Regions from separate parts of the Homo sapiens genome. Here region 1 is linked to region 2. Evidence: fine-mapped expression QTL. Tissue or cell type: nucleus accumbens. Region 2 holds a variant in brackets; the other region holds the start of a gene. All regions are shown on one strand. Distances are between the middles of the regions.

Region 1 (7,805 bases), 910 kb after region 2:
TGATCACTTCTCTTTCAAGGACACACAAATAGAGCTGTAGTTCAACTACAAAATCAAACTGACCCATCCGTGAATCTAATGTGGGCTTTTTTTGCTTCACCAACTGATCAAAGGTATCACCCATGGAGATATAAGTTGAGGGAAAGGCACTTGGGCAATGGTAGTGGATGACATGAAAGAGTCCAGTCCACCTGCTCATGCAGCTTGCACCCTCTGGTCCTGCTTGTGTTCACTCCTGCACGTACCACTTTCATCTTAGGATAGATCATTACTGAACAACTGTGACCCCGATGTCACCTGTGTGATATCTCAGCGCCAAGCAACACATCTCTCCCAGGGCTCTGCAGCACGCCAGGAGCTATTTTTCAAAAGGTATATAAATCTCTGCTGTGTATTCTGAACATGCTTCTGAATTCAACAAGTTTGTGTTGTGAGTCTCCCATTGAAACTTGCCATAAACTCCACACATCCCTATCTTCCATTCTGTGTCTTTTTCCACCACTGATATCCCTTATATGCAAATGTATGGCGCTACCACCCATATGCAGTAAAATCTATCATAATTTTTTCTGAGTTTTAGCTAGTATAATATCTTAAATGTAAATATACAAAATTTCTTTTTCTTGAATCTATGCTTTAAATTCAGTCTCCACATTCAACTTTTTCTGTAATTAACCTAACCTATGGGCAAGCAGGAGAGGTTAAAAAGTGGCCAGAATCATTAAAGACAACAGGCTACAGAAGATTAGAGGGAGGAGCACTTACTTCCCTTTGAGAGTGTGAGAGGTTGAATGATGACCCATCCAAAAATATCCACATACTAATTTCTAGAACCTAAGAATTTATCCTATATGGAAAAAAATATTTTACAGATGTTATTAAGGGTCTGAGTGGATCCTAAGTGCAATTACATGTATTTGTATAAGACAGAGACAGAAGGAAACACACACACTCACGAGTAGAGAAGGCAATAACGTAAGCATGGAGACAGAGACTGGAGTGATGTGCCACAAGCCAAAAGAATGCCAGCAGTCACCAAATCCCAGTAGGAGCTGCAAAAGGCAAGGAACAAATTCTCCACTAGAGCCCCTCTTGGGGGAACATGGTCCTGTCAACACGTTGATTTTGACCCAGTAAAAATAATCTCTTATTTCCAGCGTCCTGAACTGTAAGAGAATAAAGTTCTATTGTTTTAAGTCGTCAAAGTTTGCGGTAATATGTTAACAGCAGCAAGAGAAAATTAATATAGAGATAAATAGGAATAATAAAGAAAAACCTTATGTGGTGAATAGAATTTTAATGGTAGATAAGATTTACATATATTGTGATTGAAAAAGAAGAAAAACAGTAGGGAAGAGGTAATATTACAGGTGGAGGGAAAAGTATTACAGGTGAAGGGAAAACTTAGTAAAAAAGAAATTTAAGGGAGTTATACAGGGAAAACAAAAGTAGTTCAATTAGACAAGAGTACAAACTGCTTGAAGATGGTGATACAGATTGTTGACAATCCTGAATGCCAGTCTAAACGTGCACTTTGATCTGTAGACAGTTAAGGTTCTCTGCAACTTGTAAGGACAGGGTCAGGGCAGGGGAGGTAAGGGAGGAGGAAACACCAACATGATACACCTTTTGCACATCTGTGTCACACTACTCTCTATTTTTCTACTCTTCACCCTCCAACACAGGTATGAGGGTTGAGATTGATTCCCCAGGACCTAGTAAAAAAGTATGGCATATATGTTTGATGAATAGTGAATGCATTAACGAATAATACTGTACATGTTTTGTTTTACTCATCACTAAGCATGGTATGAGGGAGTAGAACAGAATACCAAACTGCACTTCAATCACTTACTTTTACTCTTCAAAGTTCTGATTATTAAAATGATTTTATTTTAAAAGTAATATTCCAAATATAAGAGATTTGGACTTAATGTGATTAACCGTAAGGCATACTTCAGAACACCAATAGCAATTCTAGTCAATTCCACTCAGTTAATGGTGGCTGTCTGAGGCAATGTTGAGAAATAATGTAAGAATTACACCATAATAGATTAGGAACATTTGCTAAAGTGCTGGATTCGGAGTAGAAACATAAATGGCTTGTTTCCCATTCCATTCTTGCTCTAGAAGTTAGTTATTTGCATACAAATGGCCAACAGGTACATGAAAAATTGCTCAACATCACTAAGTATATAAGAAATGAAAATCAAAGCCATAATGAGATATTATCTTACCCCAGTCCAAATGGCTACTGTTAAAAAGACAAAAAATAATGGATGTTGGTGAAGATGCGGAGAAAAGAGAACTCTTATACACTGTTGATGAGAATGTAAATTAGTACAGCCACTGTGGAAAAGTATATGGAGATTTCTCAAAAAATTAAAAATAGAATTATTCAATCCAGCAATCCCACTATTGGGTATCTACCCAGAGGAAAGAAATCAGTATATCAAAGGGATACCTACACTTGCATGTTTATCGCAGCACTATTCACAATAGCAAAGCTATGGAATCAACCTAAGTGTCCATCAACAGATGAATGGATAAAGAAAATGTGGTATATATACACAATGGAGTACTATTCAGACATAAAAAATGAAATCTTGCCATTTGCAGTAACGTGGATGGAGCTGGAGGTCATTATCTTAAGGGAAATAAGCCAGGAACAAAAAGACAAATATCACACGCTCTTACTTATATGTGGAAGCTAAAAAATTTGATCACATTAAGGTAGAGAGTGGAAAGACAGATAACAGACTGGGAAAGATGAGGGGAGTGGGAACAGGATGAAGAGAGTAGGTTAAAGGTTACAAACATGGAGTCAGATAGAAGGAATATATTCACTGCTTGATAGTAGAGTAGGGTAACTATAGTTACACAAAAATATATTGTATTTGGATGACAGACACCCTAAATACTTGTAACAAAATTTCTCACGTACCCCATAAATTTGTACAAATAAAGTTAGTCACTTGGTTTTTTTAAAAACTTTTCGCCCAGGCGCGGTGGCTTATGCCTGTAATCCCAGCACTTTGGGAGACTGAGGGGGGCGGATCACCTGAGGCCAGGAGTTTGAAACCAGTCTGGTCAACAGGGCGAAACCCCATCTCTACTAAAAATAAAAATATTAGCAGGGCGTGGTGGTGTGAGCCTATAATCCCAGCTACTTAGGAGGCTGAGGGAGAAGAATCCCTTGAACCTAGAGGGCAGAGGTTGCAGTGAGCCAAGATCGCGCCCCTGTACTTCAGTCTGGGTGACAGAGCCGGGCTCTGTCTCAAAAATAAAAAAAAAATTCATTTCTATGCCTTCTTATGTAAGTACAGAAAGAAAAATTCCGTTTAAATGGAGATGTTCATTGGTTGAAGATGGTTAATCAAAGACATGCTGCATTCAAGTAAAAAGCAGACAAAGGCTTGAATATCGAGGAGTTGCAGAGCCAGTATGGGTAACTATTCTAAAATCCTTAAATCGCTCCTGGGCCCTCGAAGTCCTACCCGCGTAGGTCAGCCCGAACTATCAAAATCCCCACTTCCTCTGGAGGTAAGGACGTCCGCCGCGCTCTCCACGTGTCACCTTAAACTCCCACCCCAACCAGCGCAGGCGCACTTCGAAGCCTCCTAGACCAACCTAAGAGAAGTACTGAGCAAGCGCATGAGTTCCATTAACCACGCCCTCCGGAGCTGCCGGAGCAGGCGCAATTAGGAGTAGAGGGCGTGCTTGTGTGATTACAGTCCACTTTACCTTTAACAGATTTGGTTGTCTGGACTCTAGCTCAGGTTCTTTTACCCCTGTCTTGTTGGAAGTCACTTTGCCTAGAGTAGAAGTTGTTTGCGGGAAAAATTTGCTCCTCCCATTAAGTAACCACTTTGCTCTCTGAGGCGGAACGTGTCATTGAGGCAGCAAGTCCTGACAGATATGGAAAAAAAAAGGCACATTGTAGAGAATATCTACACTCCGCCAACTCAGTCACAACGCAAAAATTACACAAAAATAAAACGTTCACTTGTTACATACTATGTGTTTCATAAGACATACAAGTAGTTTTATTTTCCTATATCAATGAGAACAGCACTTCTAACTATTAACAAGGACCTATACTAAGACGCAGCGCGTGCGCGAGCCATCTGGCGCTGTAAAGCGCTTAGAGGCTGGAATAACGACCTGCCTTACGCTTTGCGGCTGTCGTCGGAGAGGCATCTGGGTTCGGACTGGGGCCGCCATGGGGAAAGTGAATGTGGCCAAGTTGCGTTACATGAGCCGAGATGACTTCAGGGTCTTGACCGCGGTAAGAAACCCGCCGTTCCTGTTCTCCCTTCCCCTTAACACTGTGTGACCTCTTCCTGTTCCTGCAAGTTTTCTGGGATCTGAGCAGGCACACTCTGGGACCCGGGACGTGGCAGAAGCTGGGAATGGAGAAGAGAGCATTCAGAAAGTCGGATTTTTAAAAAGGTTTTGTTTGGGAGCTTACCTTCCCCCAGATAGAGCAAAGGTCCCGTCTTCTAATAATTGTTTTCTTTTCTGCTGCTATTCGCTTTGCGCTGAAGAGAAACGCTTGCATCTCTGTGGCCTGGAAACTTCTCTGATCCTGAGCTTCCGACCAGCTGTGAAAGGTTTAAGCCCCCCCCCCCCCCCGAGATTTGATAATATTGACTTCCCTACTAACAGACTCAGTCGCATAGCAGTCTTTCTGATTCATTCAGTCAACACATATTTGTCGGTTTTTTAGTAGCAACATTAGGAGGTTCACTTGTTCAAACAGACAAGTGGAGAGAGAGACACAGATCATCAAGTAAACGAAAAATAGGATAATGGATAAATGCTATGAAAATGATAAAGGATAATGGCATAGAAAGTATATGTATCTGGTGGAGAGGAGGGGCACAAGTTATTGGCCTTTGGTAGACAATCAATAAATATTCACTAAATGAAAGAATGAATGGGGGAATAATAGGAGCTGTGTGAGAAAGAGACAGCCCAGTGAAGTCCTTGGAAAGAGTTGGAGGCAGAGGAAACAGCAGTAGTAAGTGCAAAGGCCTTGAGACAGAAAAGTCTTTGAAGAGAGGAAAGGCCAATGTAATGTGGCTGGAGCAAAGTGAGATGCACACTAATGGTTGGAGATGTAGCGGAAAAGGTGAGAAATTATGTACTACAGAGCCTTGGAGGTTTGGTAAAGAATGTGGGGGTAACCACTAAATGTTTTTAATCAGGGGAGTAACAAAATCTGATTTTATGGCCTCAGTCTTATGGCACAGAAATTAATATATAGATCAAGACATTTGTACATTTATTTAGGAGCCGTTATCTTTTGGTAAGGAGTGAACCCCATGATAAGGACTACCTATATTGTGTAATTATGTAATAGGATATGCGATGTGAGTCACACTGGTTCTTGCATTATGTTAAGGCTTCAAGTTTTGGATTTTTAAAATTAATCTTAAATAGCGCTTAAGTATTAAACTATCAAATGCAAAATCAGTGTGAAATTTGGAAGACAATGTTTACTTTGCCTCTCATGTAGATTCTTCTAATCAGCTGGACTTTCTCTATGAAAACCTACTATCACTTCGGAAAGATACCTTCCTTTCCTGCTTTCTCAGCACACTCATTCCTTAGTGTCTCTGACAGAAGTAGGGGTCAAAAGTAAGAGTGTTAGAGGACGGGGGAGGCAGAGACAAAGCATGGAAAATAAGTTAAATTTAAAAGTTAAGGTTTTGGTGAGACATCAAAATGATGCCAGATTTATCTTCCAAAACATTGGCGCTGCAATATTTAAATTATTTGTAAAGTTCACCAAGAAATGACTTAGTCATTAAATATGACATTCCGGTCTCAGTTGAATCTCACCAGTGTTGGTACCCTTTCTTGGGCCTCTCTTCCCTTTTACTTCTTTGGCTCCTCCTATATCAATAATCATTGTTTGACTAGCTGCCCTTAGCTTTCAATATGAACTTGCCCCAGAATTCTGCTCCCAAACATTCCTTTTCTTCCATTATCTCCTGCTCAGTGATAGCATCCACTTCACATCTTCAACTCTCACTTCTATAAAATAATTGACAATTTTTCCTTCTAATTATAACTTCATTCCTAAATATAGGCCCCTTTCCTATTTAATTTTCTCTCTTTCTTTTTTTTTTTTTTTTGAGACGGAGTCTTATTCTGTTGCCAGGCTGGAGTGCAGTGGCACAATCTCAGCTCACTGCAACCTTCACCTTCTGGGTTCAAGCGATTCTCCTGCCTCAGCCTCCCAAGTAGCTGGGACTATAGGCGCACACCACCACGCCCAGCTAATTTTTGTATTTTTAGTAGAGATGGGGTTTCACCATGTTGGCCAGAATGGTCTCGATCTCTTGACCTCGTGATCCACCCACCTTGGCCTCCCAAAGTGCTGGGATTACAGGTGTGAGCCACTGCACCTGGCCTCCAGTTTTCCTTTAAACATTTTTATTTGACTCTCAGTGCTCAAACCAAATTCAATTTTTTTCTACCCCCTTTCTCTTTTCCCAAGCTCTATAAAAAAAAAAAATAATAAAATCTTAAAACTTGCTTTTCCTCATCACTTCCAATTGTGGCTTTCCGTTCCCTTTACCCTTCCACATCTAATTGCCAAGCTCTCCCATAATACTTCCTAAAGATTTTTATTCCTTCCTTCCAGTACCACTACCACTTACCCTGTTCTGGTGGCTCTTTCCTCTGAGCTGGACTTCTGTCTTAGTTCTCCGGAGTACCCCCTCAGATTTTGCCATCTCTAAGCCAATTTGCATATTCCTGGTACATTAATGTCCTTAAAATAACCCTGTTCGTGTGTCTCCCACGCCTAAACATCTTCAAGAGCTTCCTGCTCTCATCAGGATAAAATATAAAAGTATTTGGTCTACATTTTAATGCCTTCTCTATCCTAGAAGTATCTTCCAGCCGCGTTTGCATGAATTCTATATGCTATCCCATCTGAGCTGCTACTGTACTCAGCTATTCTCTGTGGTCAGTACTTTCTTGCATATGTGCCATTTTCAAATCTTTTTCTTTCACTAATATCCCCTTGTCTGTTTTCTCTGTATGCCCACATCTTTTAAAAGTCAGTCTCTAGTTTTGCATCTTCCTTGGAACTGATCCCTCAGCTAGAAGTATTCTTATTCTGCCCTGAGCTACCTTTTTAAGCACTTATCACTTCTTAACTTCTAATAAACTTAGATGTATACCATTTTTTAAAATTTCCATCATGAGATAAAAATTTCTCAGAGGTAAAAAGCACATATATATATATATATATACATATATATATATATACATATACACATGCAGAAGAGCATGTAGGATAGAGATATATATATATGTGCTTTTTACCTCTGAGGAATAAATTTAAAAATATATATATAATATATATATTATATATATATTATATATATATAATATATATATATTTTATATATATATATTATATATATATATAAAATACTTTTAAGTTCTGGGGTACATGTGCAGAACGTGCAGGTTTGTTACATAGGTATACACATGCTATAGTGGTTTGCTGTACCCATCAACCCATCCCATCTACATTAGGTATTTCTCCTAATGCTATCCCTCCCCTAGCCCCCCACCCCCCGACAGGCCCCAGTGTGTGATGTTCCCCTTTCTGTGTCCACGTATTCTTACTGTTCAACTCCCACTTATGAGTGAGAAAATGTGGTGTTTGGTTTTCTGCTCTTGTGTTAGTTTTCTGAGAATGATGGTTTCCAGCTTCACCCATGTCCCTGCAAAAGGCATGAACTCATCCTTTTTTATGGCTGCATAGTATTCCATGGTGT
Region 2 (7,805 bases):
TGTTCCAGATCTAATAGCAATCTAGAATTTAAATATAAACAATATCATGGCTAAAGTAAGTAATTATTCAGCTCATTTGTCAAGAAACAACATCCAAATCCATATTCTGCTGAACAACTGGAACAAGCTCATAGCTAATGTGATTTGCACCCAGAAAAGACCCTGAAAAGTACAAACTGTTAAAATACACTACCATATCTGACTGTCTGGAATTACAATAAAAGGCAAGATTATTTTACACTTAAATATGCATAGAAATTTAGTGGAAAGGCAATATGATATTCTTTCAAGGGAAATTGTTTCTATTAACTTTAGAATTATTTGACAGATTATTTATATGAGAAACAGTTAATACAATTTATTCAGAATTTAAATTATACAAAATTATGTAATTAAGGGTATTAAAAGCAGTTGATCAGTATGAAGTGGGAAGAACAAATTCTTTAAAGAGGGAATGACTCATAGACAGAAAAACAAAGGCTAGGGAGAGATAGGCTCCTTTCAAAAATGAGAAACAGATACCATGATGTGACAGTGGCCACAGGTGCCCAGATAGTTGGACAAACATTATTCTGGGTGGTTCTGTGAGAGTATTTTTAAATGAGATTAACATTTAAGTCATTAGAGTAAAGCAGATTGCCCTCCATAGTGTGGGTGGGCCTCATCCAATCAGTTGAAGGCCTACATAGAAGAAAAGGCTGACAATTTCTTGAGTGAGAGAATTCTCCTGCCTGATGGTCCTCAAACTGGAACATCAGCTCTTCCTGGTTCTACAGCAGCTTTCCAATTTCAGTCACCAACTGGGACATTGGCTCTGCAGATTTTGGGTTTGCCAACATCTATAATCATGTGAGCCAATTCCTTACCATAAATCACTCTTTCTTTCTATATATTCAATTGGTTTTGTTTCTCTGGAGAACCCTGACTAATACATAAGATTTAACCTACTTGGTGGCCTGCCAAGACCTACCTGAACAACTTCACTATGAAAGAAAGTCAGCAGGGAAACTTCATGACTTTCAAATAGCACTAAATATTTAAAGAAAGTGAAATGTCTGGTGGAGGAGTATAGGCTACAACTGAGTCTTACGTATAAATTGGCATATGAGTAGAAGCTAAGTATCTGAATGAACTAGTATAATAATGCATTTGAAAAATAAAAATTACACACACACACAATACCCACATACATACTTTCTATACTGCGAGGAAAATGCATTCATCTTGTAGAATCATTCCTAAGAATATTTTCTGAAAAACATGAGGCCAACAGAACAATAAGGCTTATTATTGAGAATGTAGTTAAAAGGAAAATTAGCTAGTAAGTTTATTCTTATCCTTGAGTAAAATATAATTTATTGAAATTAATGTACTGAATGCAGTTCTGTATGCCATACCTTAAGAAAGAAATAACAGTATAGAAACTGATCCAGAAAAGAACAACCATACAAAGATGAATGGGCTTTTTAAGATATGTGATTTAAAGAGACAAAAACTTAGAGGTAAGGGTGAATGTAGGGTTGGAAGAATCAAAGTTTATAAAATTATAAAAGATGTGAATATGATTAATATTTGTTTATCCAGATCTAGAATATTAGAACTAGAAGGCATCTCATTAAGTATAGAAGAATCATTAAATAAAATAATCAGGATCAATAAATAAAAATAGGTAATAAAACTTAGAGACAGCAAATGTAAATAGCATGGTGCCAATTATTTGGCCACAATGTTCATAATTATCGATTTTCTCAAATGAGAAAAAATGATATTTGTGGATTATAAAGTGAATAAATGCCATTTATATCACATAGATTATAGACTTGGAAAACACTTTTTATAAATATTGCATTAAAAAATGGCAATCTGGGCATGGTAGCATGTGCCTGTGGTCCCAGCTACTCTGGAGGTTGAGGTGGGAATGATTCCTTGAACCCAGGAGGTCAAGGCTGTGGAGAGCTATGATCATACCACTGCACTCCAGCCTGGGTGACAGAGTGAGAATCTGCATCCAAAAAAAAAAAAAAGCAAAAAGAAAGAAAGGAAGGAAGATGGAAGGAAGGAAGGAAAGAAAGAAAGAAAGAAATGTCAATCCTTGGAAATGAGAAGAAAACAATTTCTCCACGTGTCACTTTTTTTTTCTTCAAAGGTTTTCTATATCCTGAAGGAACTTAAATTTAAAAAGCTGCCATGATAGATACACTATTAAAAACCATATTCAGACCAAAGATGTGAGCTCCTATGTCTGACACCTTATGCATAAATCAATACTTACAGTCCTGTTAGTAAGATACATGCCTGGGATAATAGATATACAAAATGAAAGGCCTTAGATCAGAGCTTGCTTAGCAGGCCATTTAGGTTTATATCTTACTTTCTTCAAGGCATTTATTTACTTTAGGAGATGCTGGGCCACAGAGGTTTCATTGGAATGTGTAAGCCATTATTACTCAATGTAACTCACATTTGCCTTTCTAAGCATGATGCAATTGCTTCTTCCTTTCCTTCATTTCTAGCTGAAATTATGCAGCTTTAGCAATTGATCTTCAACAGAATCAATAAATTATTCCATCACAACCTCGGAGAACATGTAAATGCTCAAGGAACATTTCATACCTTAGAATAACTTACATTGCGGAGGTAAATTATTAGGTAAACATTTATTCCACTTATTACACACTCAAGTCTGTTCAAAAGATTGTGCTACATGTCTGAAGTGACTTTGACATTGAACTTAAAACAATGACTCTGGTTATTAGCTGATCAGTCTCATTTTATATCACATTCACAATTACTTGTTCAACCTTCAACTGCAGCTGCAATATCAGGCTATTCACAATTTTAATAGTACTACTTGTGACTCCAATCTACTTCACACAGTACTTTGAGATCTGTTTACAATGCAACTTGCACTTTAAAATTAGAATAATTGATAAAGTTCTCATGCCTCCATTTCCTTATCCGTAAGTAAAATTGCCCCCAAAATATACACAACCCAAAAAGCTGCAAATACTGGACTAGAGTATAAATTATAGAATTAAAAAGCTAAAAGAATAGAAATCCACAGAATTTGATTTTCTTAACTGGTAGTTCATGATGGCCTTGGGGATGGGTTGGTGGAAAAGTGATTTCATCCATCTGAATACATTTAGGAGTCATTCAAATGTTTTGTCTAGTAATTAAAAGAGGAAAGAACACCTCACATCTGCAAAAATTAGTTCAAACTACATAATTCTCTGTCTCTTATGTATTTTAAAGTGATAGTCCTACTGTATTAGTTCATTCTCAGATTGCTATAAAGAATTACCTAAGACTGTTTATGAAGAAGAGAAGTTTAATTGACTCACAATTCCACAGGCTTAACAGGAAGCATGACTGCGAGACCTCGGGAAACTTAGAATCATGGTGGAAGGCAAAGGGGAAACAAGCACCTTCTTCACATCGTAGTGAGAGAGAGAGAGAGAGAAAGAGAAAGTACCACATATTTTTAAACCATCAGATCTTGTGAGAACTCACTATCATGAGAACAGCATGGGGGAAATCCACCCCCATGATCTAATCACCTCCTACCTCTGGGTTCCTCCCCAAAACTGGGAGTTACAATTCAACATGAGATTTGCATAGGGACACAGAGCCAAGCCATATCACCTACATTAAATGCTCCAAATAAATTTCATTTGAATTTGATACAGAAGGATAATTTATTCTGATGATATTAAAGACTCAGAAAAAAAAAGTTTTTAATGCAACCACTCATTTTTAACATAAGATTTTTTTCTTGGCTGAGATGAAGGATACCAAGAAAATGCCATTTTCTTCCCCCTACTCTATCCGGGAGCTTTTTCTTTGGATTTTCACAAAAGAAAGACTTTTTAAAAATTATTTTTAAAATGAATCAGTGATGCCTTAATTTTATGTGTCATCATCTACATTTCATTTTCAACTTTTGCTGTTTTATCTTCTTCCTTGTTAGGCTCTTTGAATCTGGCTTTGTTGTTCCTGTTCCTGACATTTATGAATAAATAAAAACTATGGAACTCAACAAGTGAGACAATCCTAGAATAATAGATGCATAATGAAGAATCTCACAGAAGTTTCTTTCTAGTGGGCCACCTAACCCTTGCCTCACCCTCACCTAAGTATATAAGTAAAGATGAAGTTTTAGATGAAACCTCTGGTGTACAGAGATTTCATCTAGGAATGTTGCTACAGTGCAAACTGTCATTATCTAGATAAAATCACATATATTTTCCTCAAAATAATGATACTCTCACTTGCTTTCCTTCACAGCCCAGCTGAAACCATTTAGCCTTAGGACTTTGTCTTCAGTGGGACATATTGATTATACCATCATATCTCAAGAGACACACATCCACATACCCAAATCATTCCACATCTTAAAATAATTTTCACTGCAGAGAAACATCAATGAGTGTGCATTTGCTCCTCTTATCTGGTGTTTCACACTGAATTCTGTTCAGAAAATATTGATCAGCATGCTTGGATTTGGTTAAGAATATGAATAAATTTAATCAACGTATCAGCTGAAAATGCCATGAAAAAAATCCACACAAAATAGAAATCTACAGGTTAATTAAACACACTCAAAATACATTCATAAAATAAGAACATGGTGGGGGAACAGGGTAAAAGAAACAGATGAACTAAACTGACTTTTCTTGCAAATAGGTATATAACAGAGTGGACTCAAGGTTATCCTGCATAAAATGAATGTGGCAAAAGAGTCCTGCTAATGACTTTCCAATTGCTACACAATAGTTGTTTTCAAATAAAACCAACAAGCTAATTACAGGCATATTACCTGAGGCCACATATTAGGTTGGTGCAAAAGGGATTGCAGTGCTTGCCATTAGAAGTAATTAAAAGTAATGGCGAACACTGCAATTACCTGATAAATCTTGTTTTTCTTAGTGACATTTTTGTACACTCTTGC[A/T]ACAACTTCTTTGAATGTGAATAGGTTGTATATATGCAAAAATATGTGACTATATAAATATAGAATATGTTATGATCATTGAAAAGCCTGGCTCAAAATACCTATGCCATATTTATTTATCCATGCTTTTATCTCTAAACCCCTTTATTAACATATCTGGCCTCTACCTCTACTATTTTCACAATATTTTTCATTTGTATATATTACTATTGATATGACACATGATACAACATGATTTTATCTGGATTCTTCTATTTATAGCTATTTTTAGCCTCTGTGGACAGCTCCATAGGGAGAATGAACTATTCGTCAACGTCACCCATATTTTACTGAAGATTTTGAAGGTATTCCAATGTGACTGACTACTACGTTTCCTCACATGTGTGCTGCTGTATCTGAGATCACCATGTTTTCAATTATCTCATATGAACCTGTAAGTAAGATAAATCTACTTTTAAAAACATTAGAGATATTGGAACAGTAAGGAAAATATTTTTAATTAAAATATCTGCTACTGGCAACTTTGTCATCTTCCAAATGTAAATATAGAACTTCCATAACCATAAAGTTTGTTGTAAAACTTCGTGATGATCCTTTCATCCAAGGGAGTAGCAAGGTCATGTTAAAATTACCTGGAGAGAGAAATAGAGGTGTGTTCACATTTTTTTTCTTTTTTTAAAATTTTTTTTTATTATACTTTAAGTTCTGGGGTACATGTGCTTAATGTGCAGTAAGGTGTGTTCACATTTTAAAACTATTAATAAGAACTCAAGAGGCCCTCCTGCCCCAAATAGACTCTCCTTAAAAACTGTATCTGATATAATTCCACTTATCTGGGAACAGAACCTAAACTATTTTTTCCCCAAGTAAATGCTGCTGTTTCTTATGTCTGCATCTTCCCACACACAACTCTCTGGAATACTCTTTATTTTCTCTCTCTCTGGTAAAGGCCTACTTTCATTTGAGATTCATATTCTCTGAGACATACTCCTTGAGAACATTCTAGGCTTATGAAAGTCCCCTCTCCCATCTCTGTGCTCCCATGACATTTTGCCCCTATGATATTTATCACCCATCACAAAATTGTTATTATTATTACTATTATTATTATTATATGAGACAGGATCTTGCTCTCTTGCCCAGCCTGGAGTGCAGTAGCATGATCATGGCTCACTGCAGACTTGACCTCCTGGGCTCAAGTGTTCTCCCACCTCAGCATCCTAAATGGCTGGGAGTACAGGCGTAGGCCACTACAGCTGACTAATTTCTGTATTTTTTGTAGAGACAGGGTCTCATTCTGTTGCCCAGGCTGCTCTCAAACTCCTAGGCTCAAGCAATCCACCCACCTTGTCCTCCAAAAGTGCTGGGATTATAGGTGTGAGACACCATACCTGACCTGTTTTTAAGTGTTAGATTCTCCTACTACACTAGGTATCTCTGAAGAGAAGAATTAAGCAAGAATAAAATCTTATTCTAAAATCGCTTATCACAGAGGTAGCAAGTTAATGTCAACATAGTCTAAATTCTGATTTGTAGGTATTTTTTTCACTTTTATGGTGTTTTACAAATATTGAAATTTTTGTATGAAGGTACAAATTTCTGGCTCCTCTTGAAAAATCTAAAATCTTACAACACTAGGCCTTCATTCCCACATGATAACATGAGGCTACAGTTGAATAATGGATGTCCATTTTGGACATGGTCCCTGTCTCCAGTTTGTCTCAGTTTTCATCATTCAATTTGTTCTATATCTTGCTTTACTTTCCTTGGTAATACTATATGCCTGCTATAGTATTTAATTGTGTTAGAGATTCCAGGCCTATTCAAAGTAATCTTTAAGGCTATTAGAAAATACATGAAATAATAGAACACAATGATAATAGCAGAAACTGACTTTCATAGCACATAGAGCATTGTGGAAGGCCAGGCCTGTTCCAGGTACAAAAGATGAAAATCTGGGTTGTAATGGGCACAAGCAGAAAGTGGTAGGAAGTTGTTAGACCCTCAAAGGAAGATGAGGATGACAGAATGCAGAATAGGAAATGTATAAAATTAATTTCACCTTCTTTACAGCTTTGCTTAAGGGCAGGATTAGTGATAAGATTTGAAACTGAATCTGCAAAGCTCACATTAAAACATTCAATGTTGTAAAAGGAAAGATTTGCAGAACAGTACCATATGATCTTCCTAGAAGGTCTTTTGTGAAAGATATTCTACTTCTCCCAGTATTTTGGCTTTTCTTCACCTCAGTTCATGTATTTCTGTACCTGATAATTTTTGAGTTATGAATTTGAATGATCTTTGTTGCTGAATTTTATTAGGCTCTGTATGTGCAAAATCCCCAGACGTGATGGTCTTATGGATAGTGGGTGCATGTGTGCGTATGTGTATATGAGTGTGTGTGTTGTAGGAAAATTGGAATTAAGAGAGAATAGGAAAAGAAGAGTGATAGGAAGGTATAGAAATGGTTAGATGATATATGGTTAATAGATTTAACCAGTTGTTAAATCTAAAAATATATATATTAAATATGTATTAAATATTGACTATTATGATCACTTTCTCTTATTGTTACCTTCATCCTGTAGATCAGGCAAACAGAACTGATTGTCTTGAAATCTTGAACTTTGAATGCTCAGACTGTTCATGTTCCTCCATGTAATGCTTTAAAAGAAGATTGGTAATAAGGAAAAGGTCTCTGCAATGATAACATAACAGTCACATATTCTAAGCAAGTAATAAAGATGACTATGATTACAGTAATAGAAAATGGTGGGAAGAGAAAATTGCAATACCCAAGAAAGAAGTAGGTTCCTGTCTGTGCCTCCTCAAAAATTTTACTCAATTTTAACAG

The links. PIP is the estimated chance that this variant, and not a neighbour inherited with it, causes the effect.
Region 1: RIOK2 starts here. The variant in region 2 is fine-mapped to the expression of RIOK2 in nucleus accumbens (GTEx, PIP 0.94).

Annotation. Positions count from the first base shown.
Region 1 is chr5:97,179,609-97,187,413 of GRCh38, reverse strand. It overlaps RIOK2 (RIO kinase 2), which reads left to right and starts at 4,167. Exons shown (of 10, transcript NM_018343.3): 1 at 4,167-4,288. The coding sequence starts at 4,223.
Region 2 is chr5:98,090,979-98,098,783 of GRCh38, reverse strand. LINC01846 (long intergenic non-protein coding RNA 1846) reads left to right here. Exons shown (of 5, transcript NR_146477.1): 4 at 5,213-5,384. Among named protein-coding and RNA genes, the nearest start is that of LINC01846, 66 kb to the left of the region's middle. The variant A/T (reference allele first, on the strand shown) is at 4,952.